Linked DNA regions of Homo sapiens: region 1 is linked to region 2. The links come from fine-mapping of genetic effects on gene expression. A gene starts in region 2. The other region holds a variant in brackets. All regions are shown on one strand. Distances are between the middles of the regions.

The links. PIP is the estimated chance that this variant, and not a neighbour inherited with it, causes the effect.
Region 1: its variant is fine-mapped to the expression of PYROXD2 in prefrontal cortex (BrainSeq, PIP 0.95).

Annotation. Positions count from the first base shown.
Region 1 is chr10:98,382,092-98,393,615 of GRCh38, forward strand. It overlaps PYROXD2 (pyridine nucleotide-disulphide oxidoreductase domain 2), which reads right to left. Exons shown (of 16, transcript NM_032709.3): 9 at 10,851-10,992; 10 at 10,341-10,475; 11 at 8,919-8,991; 12 at 8,507-8,663; 13 at 6,263-6,417; 14 at 5,110-5,216; 15 at 2,856-2,976; 16 at 1,477-1,777. The coding sequence ends at 1,707. Among named protein-coding and RNA genes, the nearest start is that of MIR1287, 7.5 kb to the right of the region's middle. RefSeq lists an enhancer at 9,417-9,466. The variant GTTTTTTTTTT/G (reference allele first, on the strand shown) is at 5,533.
Region 2 is chr10:98,407,932-98,419,029 of GRCh38, forward strand. It overlaps PYROXD2 (pyridine nucleotide-disulphide oxidoreductase domain 2), which reads right to left and starts at 7,251. Exons shown (of 16, transcript NM_032709.3): 1 at 7,078-7,251; 2 at 3,008-3,027; 3 at 1-66. The coding sequence starts at 7,204. It overlaps HPS1 (HPS1 biogenesis of lysosomal organelles complex 3 subunit 1), which reads right to left. Exons shown (of 20, transcript NM_000195.5): 19 at 10,244-10,326; 20 at 8,267-9,795. The coding sequence ends at 9,633. RefSeq lists an enhancer at 1,081-1,280 and a silencer at 1,287-1,487.

The DNA of each region.
Region 1 (11,524 bases), 26 kb before region 2:
TCCTTCTTCTCTTTTTCCTCTTTCTTCCTCCCTCCCTCCCTTTTTTTCTCTCATTCTTCCTCCCTCTCTCCCTGTCTTCCTTCTTTCCTTCCAGAAAACCAGCAATATTGACCAAAAACAAATTTTCAACAAGATCAAGAAGTTGATGGTCCTGATGCTGAATGAGGGAGGGGGCTTGGCTACTTTCGAAAAAGCTTGGGGATCCAAACATTGTTCTGCACTGTCCTGGTCACAATGCTTCTAGGGGGCTAGTTTCAATTCTGGGTGCCAGGTTAAAAAGTATATAGAAAAGATCACCTTCTGCAGAATACAAAAATGACAAAAACGACAAAAACGATTTCATCAATAAAAGCCACAGCAGCAGCTCCACCATGTACTGAATGCTTATCATGTGCTAGATACTGGATGGAAACATGATCTATTGTTTGATGTGAGCTTTAAAACAACTCTTTTACAGCTGAGAAATCTGAGTTTACCAACATTAAGTAATGAGGTGGATCTATTTGATCCTGTATAAATTTGCCCAGGAAATGGAGGAAGGGAAGCTTTCCCAGGGAAGATCCTGCCTTATCTGCAGATGGGACGGCTTGGACTGTGGCCTTGGCTGCTGGAACTGGAGAAGCTGGCTGGGAGGGCTGCATTACCACGGGAACTCTGGATGGATTTTCCTGGACAAGGGTGACAATTCAACTCTCTTTAGAATTCTAGAGGTTTATATTGAAAGGTGTTGGTGATGCAACAGACTTAGCTCATGGGAGGCAGAAGCCTGAATGCTCTGGAATCAGGAAGACCGGGCTCCCAGACGGCCTCAGTGGAATCCACTTTGCAGTCACCCTTGGCTGCTTTTTGCCTGACTGGAGGATTCTGTGGCTTGAGATGCCCAGCATTGTTCAGGACCGTGGCCTTTGAGGGTGACTCTGTGGATCATGGGGAAATTGGGTCCATTCTTATAGCTTGCCAGGAATGTGACAGCGGTTGACTGGGCCCCACCTGGGCAGTCCTCCAATTGTTGGTAGTGGGGGTCCCAGGCAAGGACAGGGGATGCTTGGATCAGACTCTTCCACTGGTTAGATGGACTGTTTTTTGTTTTGTTTTGTTTTGAGATGGAGTCTCTGTCGCCCAGGCTGGAGTGCAGTGGCACAATCTCGGCTCACTGCAACCTCTACCTCCTGGGTTCAAGTGATTCTCTTGCCTCAGCCTCCCAAGCAGCTGGGATTACAGGCGCCCGCCACCATGCCTGTCTAATTTTTGTACTTTTAGTAGAGATGAGGTTTCACCATGTTGGCCAGGCTGGTCTTGAATTCCTGACCTCAAAGTGATTTGCCTGCCTGAACTTCCCGAAGTCCTGGGATTACAGGCATGAGTCACCATGCCTGGCCTTTAAATGGACTGCTTCTTAGCTGATGTAAGAATTATGAGTACCCCAGAGAAGTCTATCCCACCAACTAACACAGAGAAAAAATACAAGCAAAATAATCTGTATGAAATATTAGTTTTAATAAAACAGAACCAGTCCATGTATGGAGGCATGGGCATAAGGTCAACTTGCACTAAATGTAACTCGTACGTTTTTTCTAAAATAATTTCTTGAGCATTGTGGTGGCCTTATGTACTAACCCGAAGCTGAACTTCCTGGGAAGCTGATCCAATGGAGCACTTGGAATTCAGGGGTGGAGTCTTCTTCCTGGGTCAGAGCTGGTTCAGGGTCACATGCTCTTGAGGTCCCTAAAGGCCACATGTGCTGCATTTCGCCCAGCAGCTCCCATCACACCTCCTCCTGGAAGGGAATCTCCTATGAACCAAAGCTCCGCTCAAAAACCTGCCAGGGTGGGGGTGGGGACAGGGCTTACAGAGATCCAGCAACAAAGCAGAGTGGGGCTGGTTAGAGGGGTCCGGGGGCATGGGCACTGGAATCACCTAAGACAGCCGCTCAATAGATTCTGGCTCCCTCCAGGCTTCCTGCACCAAAGGTCTGGGGAGGGGCCAGGTCCACAGCCCACAGTCTCAACGGCTGAGGGTGGACGTGCTGGATGGGCACACGCTTAGTAAGTGAAGTTAAAATTTCAGAATAAGGGGCTGGGGGGAGGGGGAAGATGTGTAAGCCCAGACTCTTTCCAGGGTACCAAGTCTACACAGCTGAGAGAAAGTGTGCATAGCAAATAGCCTCAGCCAGCTCCGTTAGGCTTGGAATGCGCACAAGAAAGAATTGTAAAGTTGAAGAAGTTAACTTTATCCATCCTTCCTGGTCTAAAATATGGATGGAGGCCTCTAATCCCAGCACTTTGGGAAGCTGAGTGGAGAGGATCACTTCAGCGCGGGAGTTCGAGACCAGCCCGGGCAACCTAACAAAACCCATCTCCACAAAAGAATAAAAAATTAGCCAGGCATGGTGGCACACACCTGTAGTCCCACCTACTCCAGAGGCCGAGGCAGGAGGATCACTTGAGCCCAGGAGGTTGAGGCTGCAGTGAGCTGTGATCATACCACTGCACCTCCAGCCTAGGCGATAGCGTGAAGCCCTGTCTAAATATATATACGGATGGGGAATTTAGGGACATGGGTCTCTCACAACCCCACATTGGAATGTGGTGAGATGCCTCCACCAGGATGCATCCCCAGGCCTCCTGAAGGGGAGGTGTGAGCTCAACTGTGGGCTGTGGTCAGCCTGGTGGAGGCAGCGGCTGTGTGCTCACCTGTGCATGGATAATTCTGAACACAGGGCAGCTTATGTTGGGAGTTCCCTGCTCCCCTCCCTCTCTGCCACCTTCATTGCTTAACTTCCTCCTTCTCCAAGTCTCTGGCCTCCAGTGAGCCCTCCCAGTCCCCACAGGGTAGTGGGACTCCAGGTCACTCACCAGGATGAGCCCCACTTCCACAGAGATACAGGCCCTGGAGAGGGCAGCGGTAGCCAGAATGCAGGGGCACGGGGCGGGCGAAGTAGAGCTGGTCCAGGGACATGGCGCAGTGGAATATGTTCTGCAGAGGCAGGGCCACAGTCATCAGCACAGGAGAGTTACAGCCTTTCCTGCTCTGGCTGGGTTTCTTCCCCTCCCCTGTTCTTCAGCAAATGTTCTTCTCCTTCCAGGATATTTTCTTGGGTTTTAAAATGCAGAAAGGGAAGGAGATGAGACGGAATGGGCACATGCCCTGGGGCTGGGAGTGAAGTTTTCCAGAGGCTTTTTGAGGAAGAAAGCAGGGTGGGGAACACGAACTGAACGGGAAGGAAAAGAGGGTTTTGCTCTCTACTCTGCATCCCTCTCCCTCTGTTGGAAAAACAGAATTGTCTGACTTATTGTGGCTGTTGGCATGCGTCTCTGCGAGAACTCCCTTCTCTGGCCAAGGCATCCACCTGAGCCCGGACCCCGGTGTCCAAGCTCCAGCAGGATCACTGTGAATGGCAGACAAGGGGCAACGGAGCCCGAGCACGGTTCTGCCCCCCTGGCTTGGGTGAGACCAGCCCCAGGCTGAGAAGGGAGGCAGCATGGGACAAGCGAAGGTCAGACTCAGGGGGCAGGTCTGGACAAGAAGCCTGACGTCTGTTGGGCATCCTCACAGGAGTGCTCCCCCACTGCCCTCTTCACCTTTCCCCAAACTGAGGCCATCCTCTTCCCTCGAGTCTGCTCCTCCCCATCCTCCTGCATAAGTGAATGACACCACCTTCCTCCCCCTGGCCTCTGTGCCTACCCTTCACATCACCTCCACCCTGACTCCTATGTGCACACTGTCACCAAGGCTTCTCAAGTCTGCCCGCCCCATGCCTGCTGTACCCAGCCATTCCCTTCCTTCCCGCTGCCTGGCCTTCTTTCCTCTATACCTGGACCAGTGCTGTTCAGTGAACATGTAATGGGAGCTACATATGTAGTTTTTGATTTATTAGTAGCTACATTTAAAAAGTAAAAGCAGAGCCGGTTGTGGTGGCCCATGCCTGCAATCCCAGCACTTTGGGAGGCCAAGGTGGGAGGATCACTTGAGCCCCAGAGTTTGAGACCAGCCTAGACAACACAGGGAGACTCATCTCTACAAAAAAAAAAAAAAATTAGCCAGGTGTGGTGGTGCATGCCTGTAGGCCCAGCTACTCAGGAGGCTGAGGTGGGAGGATGGATGGCTTCAGCCCCAGAGGTCGAGGCTGCAGTGAGCCGTGATTGCACTACTGCACTCCAGCCTGGGTGATAGAACAGGACCTATCTCTAGAAGGAAGAGAGGGAGGGAGGGAGGGAGGAAACAAGGAAGGGAGGGAGGAAGGAAGGAAGGAAGGAAGGAAGGAAGGAAGGAAGGGCAAGCTGATGAAACTAATGTCAATAATATATTTTATTTAGCCCAATATATCCAAAATATTATAATTTCAACATGTAATCAATATATAACTTATTGATGAGATATTTTACATTTTTTTCTATACTGTGTGCATTCTACACTTGCAGCACATCTCACTTTGGCCTCAGATCTTTCTTTTGCTTTTTTTTTAAATTTTCTTTCTAGAGATAGGGTCTCATTCTGTTGCCCAGGCTGAAGTGTAATGACGCATCACAGCTCACTGCAGTCTCAAACTCCTGGGCTCAAGCGATCATCCTGTTTCAGCTTCCTGGGTAGCTGGAACCACAGGTACGCACCACCACACCTGGCGGGGTTTTTGTTTTTGTAGAGATGGGGTCTCACTACGTTGCCTAGGGTGGTCTCTGATCTTTCAAGTGCTCAGTAGCTGCAATGAGGCGATTGAACCTGGCCTCCTATCTGGTCTCCCTGTCTCCAATCTCTAGTTTTTGATAAATTGACAAGTCTGAGGATGTGCTGCTGCCTTGAGAAGGGGGTGCTCTCTCTCAAGAAAGTCAGATGGCAGAGCCAGCATAGTTGTCAAGGCAGAGGGCCACAATCCTGGTGACCTTCTCAGTGGGGGCTGTCCTGCCTGTGTTTCTGAGCCCCCACTAGGGATCCCCCATTCCCTCGGTTTGACCGCTTCTCTGCCCTCTCTCAGCCGGGGTCCCTGCCACTGTCCTCCCTTCCTGATGAAAGCTGAGTATGGAGGGACAAGATAAAGCAGAGAGGTCATAGCCAGGAAGTGAGGGTGCAGAGGGAAGGCTATGGTGAGAGACCCCCTAGGCTTATACATACCCCTCCAGGAAGCCCGAAGATTCTCTCCAAATCTGGTGGTGTGAGGATGTCTCTGCCAACCACAGAGTCCTTGAAGCCAGGGGCATAGACCTCGATGCAATCAAACACTGGGGTGCCAAAAACAGAGAAATGAGATGGTGTTAGGAAGAAGAGGAGGCACTATGGGTGTACAACTTGGCAAATTTACTAACAGTCATTAAATTACACACAGAAATGGGCTTATTTTATCATATGCAAATTATACCTCAATAGGTGAAAAACAAAAATCAGTCCACAAGCAAATGATTAATTCATCCCAAAGATGCATGGGTAGGCCAGTCCAGTCCCCAGTTTTCCCCACTTCCCTACCCCAACCTTAAACACGAAGCTGCTGATCTCCTTTTGCATATGCAGCTTTTTTCACCTCTTCACTTTTCTCAAGCT[GTTTTTTTTTT/G]TTTTTTTTTTTTTTTTGAGACGGAGTCTCACTCTGTCACCCAGGCTGGAGTGCAGTGGCGCAATCTCAGCTCACTGCAACCTCCGCCTCTGGGTTCAAACGATTCTCCTGCCTCAGCCTCCTGAGCAGCTAAGATTACAGGCATGTGCCACCACACCCTGCTAATTTTTTTATGTTTTTAGTAGCTACGGGGTTTCACCATGTTGGTCAGGCTGGTCTTGAACTCCTGACCTCGGGTGATCCGCCTGCCTCGGCCTCCCGAAGTGCTGGAATTACAGGCATGAGCCCCCACGCCTGGCCTGATCAAGCTGTTTCTCTTGCTTGGAATGCCCTTTGCTGCCTGGCCAGCTCCTAGTCATCCTTGGAAACCCAGCTTGACCATCCCTTCCTTTGAAAGCCTTCCTTGTCTCTCTGGCTCATGCGTCTCCTTTGGTTCGTGCAGTCAGCTGTGCTGTAATAAAAGGTTTCTTAATTAGTCTCCTCCATCCCTTGCTAGACTGTGAGCAACTGGAGGGCAGGAACTGTGTCTTCTTGACTTTCTTAGCCCAGTTCCTGACCCCTGCAGTCAACTATGTTGACTTGAGGTTCCCTTGACTATTTCCTCCCTTTGGAATGGCACCTGCAGTTGTCAATCCTGAATGGGGCAGTGAGGAGGAGCAGGCCCAGTTGGGTCGCATGCCCGGCTGTGGCTCTGGAGGCAGAACGTGCAGCTGTCTTTACCTCTGTCTGCATAAGCGTCTCTCTCCTGCTCGTCCCAGGCCTTGCCTCCAGCCAGCGTATAGGGCATGTACTGAGTGAAGAGGGAGACTACATGGCAGCCAGGGGGAGCCAGGGTGGGGTCCAGCGAGGAAGGGATGCAGAGCTCAATCACAGGCCTGTGCGGGCAGGGAGGAGACGGCAGGTCTAAAGAGCAGCAGTGCGGAGGGTAGGGCATCCGAGATGACTTGGGACACAGTGGAGGCCCTGAGATGACACCAATTCTGGGCGATTGTCGCTCTACAGCCACAGTGGTTGTCCACCTGCACGGGCTTAGCGGCTGCTAGCGTGGTCCAGAGCACCTGTGAGGAGCTCGCCTGACCCCAGACCCCCGAATGCATGGCCTGTCCTTGCCTGCCTTCATCACACGCTGTGCTCTAACCACAGCTCCCAAACGCAAATGTCTCGAAGGTCCACACAGACAGTGGGAGTGTGGAAAGGGGCCAGGCCTAAGACAGCAGGCGCCCAAGCAGCCAGATTTCAGCCAGGCTTTAGTGGCCTGACTGTCTTTTCCAGAGCAGACCAATGGAAGACAGAGCTGCTAGGGCTGCCCCGAGCCCCAGCAGAGCTGTGACCTGCTTCCCACCCCACCACCTTTGCCTGCCACACCTTTTCTACCTGGAGCATGTTCTCCCTCTGATCTCCAAATATGAGTCTCCTTCAAGGCCACGGGAAATGCCCCTTCTCCCTGCGTCCCTCAGCTGCAATGTTCTCGCTGAACTCGGATGTCCACCAGGGATCTCAAACATCCCCTGTTCAAACCCCAATGCCTGATTAGCCTCTAAAATCTGCTCCACCCCCACCGCCTCTTCCTCTTTTCAGTAAATGGAGGCATCATTTCACAGTCGCTCCTTTTTTTGACCCACATCCCACTCCCTATCCAACAGAAAGTCCTGTTGGCTTCACCTTCAAAACATACCCAGTCTTCCAACACTTCTCATCACTTCCCCTGCCCCCACCCTTGTCCAAGCCACTGTCCTCTCTCCCTTGGATTCTGCAACAGTAACCCATTGCAACAGATGCCTTAACTTTTTCTGCATACAGTGTCCAGGTTGGTCTTTTTAAAGCATAAGGCAGGCTCTGCACAAACTTTCCTGGAGTAAGAGCCAGGGCACTTGACAAGACCCAGCACCATCCGAGACCCTTCATTCCCAGGTGCTCTCTCTCCAGCCACTCTGGCCTCGTCCCTGTGCCTCCTATACAGCAGCACACTCCTGCCCCAGGGCCTTTGCACCTGACCTTCCCTCTGTCTGGACGTTTTTTCCCCAGATACCCATAAGATCTGTATTCTCACTTCCTTCCGGTCTCCGCTCAAGTGCCACGTTATTAGAGAAGCCTTTCCTCCCCTTCCCTGCCTATTTTTCTCCACAGTGCTCATCATCAGTGCTTACTTGTTGATTGTCTTCCTCTCATGGATAGAGAGTCAACGACCTGAGACTTTCTTGGCTTTGCTTGCTGATCTGTGCCCACTCACTGAACCAAGCCTGGCACAGAATAGAGACCCCAGAATATTTATAAATGGATGAATGAACTTTGCCCTATACCCTTCTTTCCAGGCGCACATCTTCTTTACCACATGCTATAAATATTTGTGTACCTGTCCTATCATAAGCTTTGTGTCAGTTTCATGCCCCTGCCCCGCTAATTCTCCCAGCCCATACCCAGTACAGAGTCCAGCACTGAGTAGGTTTTCAACAGTGTGTGCTGGACAGCGGACAGGATGGAAAGGCACTTGCTCCTATAGCGCCCCTGCCTGTTCCAGAAGAATGGAAATACAGCTGCAGTGGGAGGTGGGAAATGCTTTTAGAAGTTTTGCAAGAAGGCAGATTATCAGAAAAAGAAAGGCTACGGAGCAGGGGACTCGGTGAGTGCGTGCTCTCTGACGGGCTCTGAATGAGAGAACTTCCTTTGCTCTCCCAGAACACATTTTCTCCTCTTCTTCCCCAGCCCCAGCACTTTCCTGGGCAGTGCTCTGCCCCTCTGCCCCTTCTGCTAACCTGAGCCGCTCTTCACCCCTTACCTGCCCTCATCCTCAGATTTTTCACCTGGGATGCACTTCCTGTCCTTAGGAGTATGGATTTTGGCAGATCCTAAGTCACTGTGAAGGTTGAACACCAGGCCTGATCCCTGCTGTGGGTGGCATGGACAGCCCCGCCTCCCAGGCCCATGTGGAAGAACATCAGGGAACATAAAGTCCAGGGCCCCTACCTGTGGGAAGGCAGGCCATCCATGGCATCTTCAAAGGCCTGATGAAGGAGGAGGGTGTCTTCACAGTTCAGGTGGATGGAGCATTGGTGATGGGGCAGCGGCTGGCCCCTGGGAGCATTGGGGGCCGCCAGGAAGCTGGGCAGCCTGTCTACGGCCACTGAGGGACCAAAGAGGAGGGTCAGGTCTTAGCCCCACAAGGTCCTCCCTCTACAGCCAGCACCCTGCTACCCTCAGTGGCGGACGGGAGTAGGAAAGTATGAGCAAGTGTTTCACCTTCTGACCAGGCTGCAGGGGGACACAGGCTGGAGGTCCGGGAATGGAGATGATGACTGAGTTCAGCTGCCCCCAGCCTGGAGGTTTCTCACTCAGATGGGTCAAAGGAGACAGTGCTGCAATGTGGTGTGCCTCTTACCATTGATCTTGGTGACAGGCGACCGGGTGTCCAGCTGAGAGATTCTCTCCAGGAACTCCTCAGGAAGCCACTCCTGGAAGGAGAAGGCTCCATGAAAGGCCTCAGATGTCCAAGGCCCCAAGGAAGCTGCCTTCTTTCTTTGCTCAGGAAGATCCCTCAGTCGCTCCCTCCGGAAATCCTCTTCATCCTTCAAAGCTCAGCCAAAACCACCTCCCCTGTGAAGCCTTCCTAGATCCCCTCCCACTCAGCTCTAACCACTTCCTCCTCCGCGCTTGGCCAGCAGTTCTGACTGTGAAATAGTCCGCACCTCTCCCTGCTTGCAAAGGGGTCAGTGGTTTGCAGGCCTCTTTTCACTACTGGTCTGTAAGCTCTTGGAAGCCTCGACGATCTCAGAATTGCCTTAACAAGTTTCTTTTTACTGATGTTTGTTGAATTTTAGTAATGGAATCACTCAGAAAAAGTAGTGCTTTGCCCCTAAGAATTGCCCCCAAGAATGGCTAGGAGCTTCATGTGCGTATACATGTTATCATATCTTTTGAGCACAGGGTAAGTCAATTGCAAAAACTGCCCCCAAAGCTCACCCCTCCCTGTTTGCACACCCACTTCCGTGTAACCTTGCAGTGCTCTCACACTCTGACTCTAGGCTTGGCCATGAGACTTGGTCTGGCCAATGCTAGCAAACAGGATGCAAAGAGATCAAACCATGTGATGCTTGCATGCATGCTTGAGCTTGCCTGCTTTTGCCCTTTGCCAGACCTTGAGAACATGCCTGGACTACCGTGCTGGAGGAGGACAGACACATGGAGCATAGCCGAGTCCCCCACCCGGTCATCCCAGCAGAAACGGTCCTGGACCAGCCACCACCAGCCAGCTCCCAGGCACATGAAGGAGTCCCGCCAAGATCAGCAGCCGGCAAGCTGACCCACAGCCAACTGCAGACGCATGAGCAAGCCTTAAGCAGCTGAAATCCACCAAGATCAACTGAAGTCTCCAGTTCTGGGTGCCAGTATTTCTTGTTGTATGCCCAGAAGTATTGTGGCTCTTTGTTAATTGATTAATTAATAATCATGGATAATATAACAGATCATTGACAAAGACAATGGAATTAGAGCGGTGAGAGGGGAGAAATCAGGAAAGTAGGAAAGTTGTGGAAATAACTCTAGATTGAAAGTCAGACCTGGGTTCTAGCTCTGGCTCTGCCAATGGCCGGAATCTTGGTCACTTCACCTCTCTGGCCCCTTCTCCCCACCTGTGAGGCTTCTTCCCCGTTTGCTACCTGCCCTTACCCCCCTGTTTCCCAAATGCAGAGACTTGGCTTTTGCATCTCACACCCTGATGCAATCCTGGCTCCCTCAATCCCCACGATTTCTAACCCCTGTTTTGGCAGACATCTAAGCTCCACCCTCCTGCCCACAGCCTCACCTGTGGCGTCAGCTTCAGGAAGGTGATCTGCGGTGATGTGTTGGACAGCACCATTTTGCTTCTCACCTCTGTGCCATCTTCCAGCACAACTCCTTGAACACAGCCTTCACTGTTCACCTGCACCTTCGCCACTGTCTAGAGCCCACCAGAACAAGGCCCCAGAAACCGCAGGAAGGGAAATCCATGTTAGATCTTCCGGGATTTCCATGGTCTGTGCTGCTCCTAGGCATTCACAACTTCTTCATCCCAAACCCATCCCACCAAGTTCTGCAGCTTCTCCATGAAGCCTCAGCTTCTCCATGAAACACTCAGTCTCAGTTCAGTGACCAGGGAATTCCAAGGGGGTGGTTAGCCACTAACAGACTGCATGACCTTAATCTCTTGATTCTGCAACCCATCCCCTCATGGCCCCTCTGTTCATTGGTAAAACAAGGGACCTTCCAAATCTGAGACTTTGTTCTGTCCTGGGATCCTTACTAATAATTGGGGTGGGGTAGAGGGGCCGTTCACCTTTTCAGTGAAGATGCTTGCTCCATGTGTGGTGGCTGAGCTTGCGATCGCATCAGAGAGGGCACCCATGCCCCCCTGGACGTAGCCCCAGGCCCCCTGCATTCCCTCCAGGCCCCCCATCACATGGTGCAGCAGCACATACCTGTGGACAGACCATCCGACTCAGATCCTGGAGGTGGGATCTCATCTCCCCAGAGTTCCAGGTGCAACTATTCCTTTCCATCTTGATCTTCAGCCCTTCCCTGCCACCATCCAGCCCTCTCCCAGCAGCCTTCAATGAGCTCAAGTTCTTGTAAGAGCCCTTTGCCTTCTCTACACCCTCTCCCTAACAAGTGTGTCTATGTGCATAGCTTATTACCACAAAGAAGGCAACGATGCCCAAACCTGCAGCTCCAGCCCTCTCCTGAGCTCCAGCTCCGGTGTCCAGCTACCCACAGATATCTCCCTTTGGACCCTTTCTTGGCAGCATCTTAAACCCACCACCTTTTCCCCATTCTCCAGCTGCTTCCCCTTCAATCTTTCCCATCCCAGTGAACGGCACCTTTCAACAGGAGGTTCTGTTTCCGACAGAAATCCAGGTGTCAGCCTTGACCGCTACCATCCTTCCCCATCTACATCCACAAAGCAACACCAACTCAGCCTCCAAAGGGCTTTCAAGGTCATCCCACCTCTCA
Region 2 (11,098 bases):
ACCCCCGATCACATGGCGCCTCTCGAAGACGGCGGTGTTCACCCCCAGTCTCTGCAGGTACGCTGCCTGGGAAGTGGGGCAGCACACAGGGCCCTCCCTTTATCCCTCTGAAATGTCAGGGCTCCCTCGGGCTGACCCGCAGACTAAGGTCCTCACTATAGGCCAGTATGGGCCACACCCCATGGCCTCCCTGCCCCGCTCATGCTGTTCCTGCCTCTGGGAATGCCCTTCCCTGTGCTTCCCTTTCCACCCTCGCCTTTTCTAGATGTCCTCTAAGATCCGACAGGCCTGCTCCCGCCCCTCCACTTCCCAGCTGAAAGTGGTCTTCCCTCCTTAGAGGCCTGGTGCCTCGGGGACTCACGCTGCTTCCTGCCACCCTGCCCTGGGATGTCGCTCTCCTCCAGGCAGGGAGCCAGCCTCATTTCTCCTACAAGCGCAGCACAGTGAGGTGGAACTTGTGAATGCTGACCCTTCCACCCAGGTTCAGTCCCTCGTTCTCTCTCTGCTGCTGCAGCCTCAGTACCTGATCCGTCTGGCCTCAGTTTGTTCACATGCAAAAGTGGGGCTGATGAAAGTAGTCCCGGCTTTACCCACTTCATAAGGCTGCTGTGAAGATTAACTGAGCTGGTTCCTAGACAGGGTTTAAGTGGTCCCTGGCACAGAGAATGTACTCAGTAAATGAAGCGGTTCATAGCAGAGCTTTATTTTGGGAGAACAAATGATGCAAGGATTTCTATTAATTTTTTTCTAGCACTTAGTGGAAAAATCAATAAATATTTGTTGAACCAAACTGGTCATGAATCTACCGATCTAAAATGCTGGCCCTGTGACCACAGGAATGGTGCCATGCAAAAGTCGGACTTTTCAAAAAGCTCACTTGGCAGCTATTATGTGCCAGAAGCAGTGAGTACATTGTCTTGTTTAATTTTTCCCACCAGCCAAGAGGTAGGTACTATGATTCTCCCATTTTACAGATGAGAAGACTGAGGCCCAATGAGGTTAACAGCTTGCCTCAGGCTCACAGAGCTGATGAGTAGAGGTGTTGGGAATTGAAACCAGACAGCGTGAAACCAGCATCTATCCTCCTAACATAACCTCCTATCATAACCTACTGAGAAAGAAACAGCAGCTGTCACTCAGTGGCTGAGGCCTGGCACGCAAGGTGAGCTGCGTCATTCTCCTATTACACAGGAACGATCTCACAGATTGACAACCTCAAATAAGGTTTCTATGAGACTATGATAAAATGAGGCAAGCACAAACAAAAGCAATGTCTCTGTGCCATCCAGAAAATACCGAACACCCCTCTTGGCTGAAATGAGTGACTGCTACTTCTTTATCAATTACTGCTCTCTGCACACTCGTCTCTCCTCCCTACAGATCAGATTTCTTGAGCTGCCCAGTTGCAGGGCTGTCCCTCCTTCCTGACAGTATCTAATCTGTGGCAACCCCTATTTTCGTAGGCCTTCCCTCAAATCACCAAAGCTCAAATCCTGTGCTAGGTTCTTTCTAACACCTTCCTACTGAGGCAACCCGAGGTTCCCCTGATGTGAGTTCCCTCGCTGCAAAGAGCAAGAAACCAAACTAGACTAACTACAAGTGTGTTCCTGGTGGGCTTTGGGTGAAGGGCTGTGGATGCCAGCCTTCCTTGGCCTGGAAACTTCCAGTAATAACAGCCACCATTTGGGCAAGGCTGCATGTGCCAGGTCCTAGCAGCAAATGATCTATTACCTTCACAGCAGCTCTGTGAGGGCAGGTGCCATTGTTCCATTTTACCGTGACTCGGAGAGGCTAAGTGACACCTTAACCTTCACAAAGTGGCAGAGCTGGGAGATGAATCTTTGTTTATATTAATATAAAATCAGGCCGGGCGTGGTGGTTCACGCCTGTAATCTCAGCACTTTCAGAGGCTGAGGCAGGCGGGTCACCTGAGATCAGGAGTTCGAGATCAGCCTGGCCAACATGGCGAAACCCCGTCTCTACTAAAAATACAAAAGTTAGCCAGGCATGATGGCGGCTGCCTGCAATCCCAGCTACTCAGGAGATTGAGGCAGGAGAATTGCTTGAACCCGGGAAGTAGAGGTTGCAGCGAGCCGAGATCATGCCATTGCACTCCAGCCTGGGTGACAAGAGCAAAACTCCGTCTCAAAAAAAATTAAAATAAAATAAAATAAAATAAATGTTTTAAATTACTGATCCATTGAGTTACAAAATGCCGCACGTAAAATGTTCAAGTAAAACTTAGACATCAGGCAAAGTATTAAGGTTTAACATCAGTCCGTTAGCACAGCCACAGTTTCCCCCTATATTGATGTTCTAGAGCTGCTGCTGCTTCAAGAAGATGTTCCACATTTGTTTTGTGGCCTTGAATGCCTTCTGTGGCCTCCTGGAGGTATCTGGACTCAGGTTACAGAAGCATAAGCTAAGGATAGCTCTGGGATATCCAGCTCAGTTTGGGATCTTGAAGTCAGTTGTGTTGGGGACAGGGCACAGGCCCTTCTGCTAGACTGAGCTCCTCAATGTCTCCAGGGCACACTTTGGCCACATAGCAGCTATGTACTCCAAGGTGGTACCTGGCCTGGACCTGGCTGGGAACACAGGGCTCTAGACACAAGGGCTGCCTATGATCTGGAGTCAAGGGCCCCCACCCCGCCCCAGGTGCCCAATCCCCTGGTTCCCACCTGCTCTCATGCTGTGTTGGTTACATGCTTCCCCACCTTGTCAGCTTGTTTCTGGAAGCTCCCTGACTCCCTCACAGGCCATGGGGAAACCACCTTTCCCCATTAGGGGAAGGGGAGGAAAGGAGCCTGTGATGTCCACAGCTGGCTGCAGATGAGCATTCGACCCAGCCCCCAGTCAGCACTGGAGAGCAGAGAGCATCGACTAGGCTGCCTTTTCCTTCTCTCTCAAGGCCCTTATCCCACCTGCTTCTTCACACTCCTTCCCAGGCTGCTGAGAGCCACACGCCCAGGGCCAGTGAAGTGGGATCAAGTGGGGAGGTACTCACAGCCACCAGTCCGTTGTGTCCTGCAACAAAACGGGACAGGGAAGGAAAACATCACTGGTCAGCGGGCGGGCAGACAGACAGTCCTTGAGGAATGTGCTCCCCGCTGCCCGTCCCCATGCCATGAAGATCCTTGGTGACCCTCCCCTCCCCTTCCCGCACTCAGATGTTGGAACAGCATCTAGTTCAACTCCATGAAACACCAGATCTTCAAGGAGTCAGAAAACCCTGGTTCTTGCCTTGGCTGGAAAAGTCCTGCTCCCCTGGCTTGGTCAGGGGCTCTGCTGGAGTGAGGGGCTCATGAGAGCATCGCCAGGGCTTCCATTGCTTGGGAGGCGCAAGTGATGGTGTCTGAGGGAGCAGCACGGTTGAGTTGGCAAGCAGGAGAAGCAATGGGTGGCTGGCATGCTGCTGCGCCAACGTCCCGTCTCGCATGGCAGCATCAGCATCCAGGGGAGTGCTGGTCATGTAGGTAGTTGCTATCAAGCGCGGCTTGTTTTGTCCACGTGTGGTTCACAATCGGCACAGTGGTGCCCTAGAAGGCTTTATTCACATGGGTTTTTTTTTTTTTTGCCAATCCCCAGTGTTCCAAAAATAAAACATGAACAGTTCAACATGAAGTAAACATGCACAGCTTCAACATGTGCTGGAGTGACTAGCTGTGCTTCAGGGTGCCTTGAGCTGAGAGGCCTGAATTTGGCTTTGGCATCTCACGTTCCACACCAAGCCCCTGGGTAGCAAGTGCCTCTCCAGCTCTGATAAGCTCAGAATCACCTGGAAGGTTGTATAAATGTCGACTCCCACAGACCCCCTTCCCAGGAGTCTGTTCAGCAGGTGTTTCACAGAACCAAAAGTTTCATGAGCTAAAATTAACTCTTACCATATGAGAAGCATGTGAGAAGCTAGTTGGTTACAGTTCATCTTAAAAAGTGCTGGTTGACATACTCTTTATTTGTATGGGCTTTTGAAAATGTTCATAAGAAAGTTTAAACAATCCGCCAGTGGGACTCATGAACAGATGGAATCTGTCTCTCAAAGACATGCAGCAAACTAAAGGCAGACAGTCCTGGGCTCAGCCCAGCCTCTGCTATTTGCCAGGGCATGACCTCAGAGAGTCATCAGCTGCCCTGAGCCTTGAGTTTCTTCACATGGGGAACAGAGGGTGCCAGGGACCCTGCAGTGTGGCAAGGATGAGATAAATGGGAGCTATTTGTCTTTTAATTGGTGCTGATGATCGATCTTGGAAAACTCATAGTCTTCCAGGCAACTGGGTCCAGTTCAATCATGGCAGACCTCAAATGAGTAAGGTCAAGGATCCAAAGCACAAGACCCCCTCCCAGTGACCACCCTCAAGTCCTGGCTGAGCCCTCCTTGGCTTCTGGTGACACCTCTGTTCCCTTGAAGAGGACTTCAGCTGCGGGCTCTGCTAATCCCCAGACCTGCCTCAGGGGCCCCATAGCAGGCGCCTGGGCCCTTGAGGAGCTGCTCTGGGCGTGGGCTCTGCAGCTGCCTGCATCAGGCAGTGTTGGTTGGGTGGATGTGCTGACCTCTGGGAGACACCTCCCGCCCTCAGAATGCTCGTCACCAGGTATGGGGCCAGGAATCTCCATTTTAACAAGCCCCCTCAGTCACTCTCAGGCACATTTAGTCAAATGACTAAATGAGATTCATCTTCAAGGTGGCGGCCAGGTGCCAGTGTGCCTTCAGGGACTCAGAGGTAACCCTTGTCTCAGAAGATGCCGTTCTGTTCCTCACTGAGGCCCAAGATGCCTTTAAACCAGGCTTTATGGTATGTTTAGCAACTAAAGAAATCATGTCAAGGAAAAGCTCACACACTGAGACTCACTCGCACTTGTAGGCAAGTCACCAAGGCAGCTGGTGACCTAAAGTCAACCTTCCCCATTAGGAGACAGCAGGGTGAGCTGTGGCTGAGCACGGAAGGAGGCAGGGGGCTTCTCTGAGGCTAAGTGAGGTGCTGGAGATGGCTCCCACCAGCCCGGGGAGTTTGTGAGCCGGCTGTCAAACAGCCATTGATATAAACTAAATTATATAAGCTTACAATTAAATAAATTAAAAACAAAGGTAATAAATACTCAAAACACACTACCTCCTATTTGTTTTACTACATTTGACTGTTGCCCATGCCCTGGCAGTCACTGGCCTCTATGTACATATCTGCATGGTGGACACACTATACAATGATGTGCTACTGGGTATCTCTCCTAAATCACATTGAGCAACCTCATCTTGGTAACAGAAAAGGCTATGGTGGGAGTATTTACACCACTGTCATCAGCAAATATTACACAGAAGGGCTGAATTTATTTTTTGTGGTCAGGCTTAAGAAAGTGATGGGAAAATGCTAATAATGCAGATTAAACCTAACAGTGTTAGCTGTTATAGCATGAATAAATAGCACAAAAATTGAAGGAAATATTCTAGTATTAGAACAATATTATCTTATTTGAGTAACATCATTCCTGTCATTTAAAGAAGGAGGCCGGGCGCAGTGGCTCACACCTGTAATCCCAGCCCTTTGGGAGGCTGAGGCAGGTGGATCACAAGGCCAGGAGTTTGAGATCAGCCTCGCCAACATGGTGAAACCCCGTCTCTACTAAAAATACAAAAATTAGCCGGGCGTGGTGGTGGGCGCCTGTAGTCCCAGCTACTCGGGAGGCTGAGGCAAGAGAATCGCTTGAACCCAGGAGGCGGAGGTTGCAGTGAGCCGAGATTGCGCCGCTGCACTCCAGCCTGGGCAACAGAGCAAGACTCCATCTCAATAAATGAATAAATAAATAAAATAAAAATAAATTTTAAAAAATAAAGGAGTAAGGTTGGGACATAAATCTTTGTTGTTTCATTTGTTTCACGATCATCCTACTCTTTACAGAAAATATGGAGCACCGTTCTCTTTGGAGCTACCCTCATTTGTCATTTGCAACTATAGGTTGGCTACTGAGTTTGGCAAAAATCAAAGAAAGCCTTTGGTAAGAATCACTCGGGTAGACTGCATTTAAATTGAGAGTATTGTATCTTTATTTGTAAAATTGTGTGCAGTGTATCTTTTATTTCAATATTTAAAATAAGCATGTGTATATGTGTATATATATGTACGTAACACATATACATATATATACACATATATGTGTGTATATATACATATATATACATGTACACACACACATACATCACACATTTTTCCCTGGAGAGGTGAGTGTTGAGTATCTACCAGCTCGCAACTGCTCTAGTACATATGAAAATGAAGGCATGCCCTCAAAGCTGCATGTTGAGTGCCGTCTGCTTTCGGTCCCGTCATTATCTCTGTATAGACCCAGTTGGCAATCATGCATTTGGGGCCCTCTGCAAGTGTGAAAGGAAGGCACTAAGGAAAGACCACCTGGTCCTGGGCCTGCCTCTTCCCCTAGCACCCAGTAGACTGTGATACTCTGAGCCCAGGGGTTGGCAAAGTGTGGCAGATCACTGCAGATCCCCAAATGTCCCAGAGCTGCAAGGCAATGGGGTCCATCTCCCTCTGCAGACACGCAGTAGGAACTCTGGGACTCAGTTCTGTTTTATCCTAACTGGCCTTTATGAAATGACTGCAGTTTCTTGTGACGAGGGGTGGCCTCAGTGGTAAGGTAGTGGTGACCAGAACTCAGGGCACTGAGGGGGCGGGGTGCTGGATTTCACTTGTCTGTTGGCCCAGGGCTCTTTCCAACCCTTACAAACCATAGGCTGAGAATGTGGTGGAAACTAGGTCACTTTGCAAGAGATATAGGGAAACCCCTGAGCTCACCTAGTCTTCCTGTCATTCTCCATGGGAAGATCCAAGCCCAGAGAAGGCAAGCATTTGCCCCAGGCCACACAGCAGAGCCAGCACCGGAATCCCAGGTGCCTGCCTGCCAGATGGAAGGGCTTTCCATTGCAGCCCCTGCTAGCGTATAAACTTCTGGCTGGGTTATGCCAGAGGAGAGAGCAGTGGGGCTTGGCTCCCCCTCCCCCTCCCCACCAAGCTCTGAGCAGGGCTGTCTTCCCGCCCCTCAGCTCTGGCCCGGCCTGCTTTACCACTTTACCTGCTCCTATCACCACCGCATCATACTCAGGCTTCAGACCTCCCCTGGCTTCCGTGTTATCTCGTCTCCACGCCGGGAAGGGAGAGGCGGCCACAGCCTTGCAGAGACCTCGGCCACTTGCAGCCATTTCTGCCCCAGGCTGGGCCTTGCTAGGCAGGGAGTTTGCTAGCGATTGGCTTTTGTGCTGCCCTAGGCACGGGGTGGAGCAGGGAGGAAGCAGGAAGAGGAGGAGCTGCAGTCCCCCTCCAGGCCCCCTCCACCATGCATTCTTGGCCACAGGCCAGCCTCCTGCTGCCCTGGGGCTGTGCTGGGCCGTCGGGAGTGTTGCCTATTAACCAGGCGGTGTCACCTCCAGGATGCAGGGGATAATGGCAAAACTGACAATCCACTGGGGTTCCTATGTCAGGCTGGCATTGTGCTGAACCCTGTAGGCAAAACTCCCCATTTTACAGATGAGGGCGCTGAGGCTGCGGGGTTAGGGAATGAGTGGTGGAGGCAGAGTGGAGCTCGAAAGGGCCCTCTCCTCCCCTGTGCATCTACCTTCTCAGTCAGAACTGAAACGCCTGGGATGGCAAGTGCTCGTGTCAGACTCTGCTCCAACTCCATGCTGAGTCTGCCAGTGCAGAGTGGTGATGCCTCTACGCCCACAGGAGGCGCCCAGGGCGGCCATCTAGCGTCACCACGACCAGGGCCTTCAGACACCGCAGAGGCAGCTGTGTCTGTCGCTGAGGAGCACTGGAGTCCTCTCCTAAATGCTCAAACACAAACCCACAACGAGGGCTTAGGGGCAAGTTCGCTGTCTGTAATTCTCTGGTGTTTTAGTTTTGAAGGCCTGGCCAGTTCTCCTCTTTTGGCACCTTGCCCATTTTCCAAGAATCCCCAAGGATTCGAGGTCACATCTGTAAATACCTCCAGCTAAAGTTCTTTCTGACCCTCCCTTAGGCCTGCCTTGAATTAGGAGCCCCTTTGTTCTCTGCCCATTACTTAGCAGAGTGTTCCCCTAGGAGGAAAAAACCCCTTGGAGCGGAGAGTTCCTGCACTGCTCTGATATCGCAGTGTGACGGAAACCTGCTATTGGTAACGAATCTCAGAACTGGGAGAGTATGTGGAGATGATCCTAAGAGGGGGTTCCGAGGACCCCTCCACACACCATGGACAGTTACCCCGCATGTGAGCATCTCTGCTAAGATCTGATTCAGGATGTTCACTCCTGTGTTATTTATTATATAGAAAGATCAAGGGGACTGGTTAAACTAGACATATCACATCCAGCCGCTGCTAAAAACTAAAGGGAAATAGTAGGTGACAAAAGCAGGGGTCCTGAACAGTGGTGGGCTCAGGGGATTGGAGTTTTTTCCTTTATGTTTTTCTGTATTTTCCACAATCCACGCTTTTCATTGCCATTCCATCAGATGATGTTAAGGAGGAACACAGATCCAGTCACCTGAGGGGATACTTCCTCACTGCCACCTTCTCAGGGTTTAGACCAACATGTGGGTTCTAGTTCCCCCAGCCCCAAAGCTGTTCCCTGCAAGGAAGAGATCAGTCTTTGAGCAAATTTTGGCTCAAGACTAAAGACACAGAAGGCGAGGCTCCTGCATGCACAGCACACGGCCATCTGATCCTGTGCTGCAGTGGACGCTGACTTTCGCCACGCCGTCCTCTCTGGCCCAGCACCGGCCTCCTGGCCTCAGAGGAGCAGACACTCCCAGTCCCAGGGCTCTCAGGGTCTCTTGTCCCTGGGTCCATTCTGGGACAGGAACTTCTCGGTTGGAAGAGAGGGGCTGTACCCCTCGGGTGGTGGTTCTCAATCCAGGGCGCACCACAGAAGCTTTGAAAGACATCAAAGGCTGGGCTCCACGGCCGCCAAGGGAATCCAAATCTCTGGGCCAGGGCCAGGGGCTTGAGAACCCCAGCCCTAGGGCAGACGCCAGCCAAGCATGAAGGGGCTGGGACTTAGCAAGGGCTTATCAGCACTGACAGAAGGGTCTAGAAGCACTAGCATGTTGGGCTTCAGTGATAACAATGACCAACATTTATTGAGCACCTACCACACTGGGTAATCCTCACACCACCCTGGGACGGAGGTGCCATCGCTTTAAACGTGGGGAATAGAAGAAACTTGCCAGGAGGTGCAGAGAGGAAGTGGCAGCGCTGGAATTCAAACCCAGGCAAAGGAGCACCTTTTACCTGGGGTAGGAGAGAGCTTGCTGGGTGGGCTTCCTCCACGCAGGGAACAGCAGAGATGGGGCTTCCTCCCCATCTCCCAGGATAAAGGCAGAGGCAGCTCTGGAAGAGGAGCTGTTGCCACCGTTGTTTTACAAACAGGACCCCTGGGCTTCCCTCTTCCTCCAGAGAGAAGGATCTGGGGCCTTGCTCAGTACCTGACATGGAGGGTGGTCTAGGTGGGGTTTTAGAAGCCCTGGGGCCACCCTGGGCACTCTGCCCTATCCTCAGGATGGCCACTGCAGACAGGAGGCTCTCGTCATGGGGAACAGTGGCAAGCAAGGGTGGCTGGAGGACAGGATGCAAAGGCAGACTGCGGCCACCTTGGCCTAGAGCAGGGGGATACGGGAGGCCTCCCAGAGGCGCCGGGCCAGCTGGCCGGCCTGCTGCACCAGCAGGTCAGTGGGGATGACAGACAGGTGCAGGGCCAGCAGCTCGTAGCACCTGACAGCCTCGGTTGGGCGGTTCTTGCTGTAGTAGCGCAGGAGCTTCCTGGGGAGGAAGGGGAGGATGGGATTCAGGAGTGAGGCTGTGGCACTCCTCCAGCGCCAGAGGCCTCTCTGGGCCCTCGCAAGCAAATGCCCATGCCCTCGGTCATCTCACTAGGCCCCTGCATGTGGGCCTTGACAACCGCTCCGGTTCCTCACTGACCTAACAGTGGCATCCTGGCTACGAGGTAGCAGTGGGGATGTTCTGGGCCGGGCACAGACGTTCCCCGTGCTGCCAAGACCATGCCAGCAGGAAGGTGGTAGGAACACAGATGTACCCTCCACACCCGTCCTCCCTCGCTGCACACAGGGCCAGCCGGGAAGGTGTTCCCAGCGTGGATTTCTGGGTCTGAGGTAGGGCACTGCTGAAGCAGAAGCTGCTCCCGGCAGAGGCGAGCACTTATCACCCAAATGGGGGCATCTGTCCCCAGTGGCTCCCAACGCAGCGTCACCTGTAGTAGTCTCCTCCCAGCATGCCGATAGGCACTGAGTCGTCGGAGAGGACGGGCACCTCGATCATCTGGAGTTTGTACCCCTGAGGAGGGAGGACAGGGAGGCAGTGGGTGTGGGGGTAGTGCAAGGGCCTGAGTCAGACGCACCGGGCTTGCGGCCTGGCTTGGCTCTGTCATGTGCGCTGGGTGCTTGGGAAAATGCCTGGACCTTGTTTTTTCATCTTTGAAGTCAGAATGACAACAGTCACCTTATGAACATTAGAGAAAAAGTATACAAAGCTTCAAGGGCCGGCAGGGTAGCTCTCATTACCGTCAATACCTGGACCTGTACAGGCCACAAACACACGCTCAGGAGGGCACCCTGCAGGGCTGTCATACAGGTCTTGAAGAGCAGAGCATTCACAAAAGGCCCAAGCCTCTGCTCTGAAAGAATTGGGAATTCCCAGGGTGGGATAAGGTGGGGAAGGGAATTAAGATCTGCTGGACGTGCCGTGTGTGCCAGGCATGAACATGGCACTTAGCTGATGCTTGCCTGGGCACCGTGGCCTGCCCTGCAGGGGGAGTGGACTCCCTAGTGTGCAGGGCTGCCCCCACGGCACCGGCTGGGCTGTGTGGCTGGCATTCAAACCTGGCCTCTCCAGCCCACAGCTCTGCCTCACTTTATCACCCCACGGGGCCACCCAAGCACACAGACTCCTGTCCCTCCCTAGAAGTGAAGGTAAAGGTCACAGGAATTTTCTAGCACTTCTGTTGTACACACGTCCTGGGCACTTCTGAGGGCACGGAGGAAAGCTGGGAGCCTGCAGGCCGGGGGAGCAGAGCTTGGGCTCCGGCTTCCTCACTTACAGCCTCGGT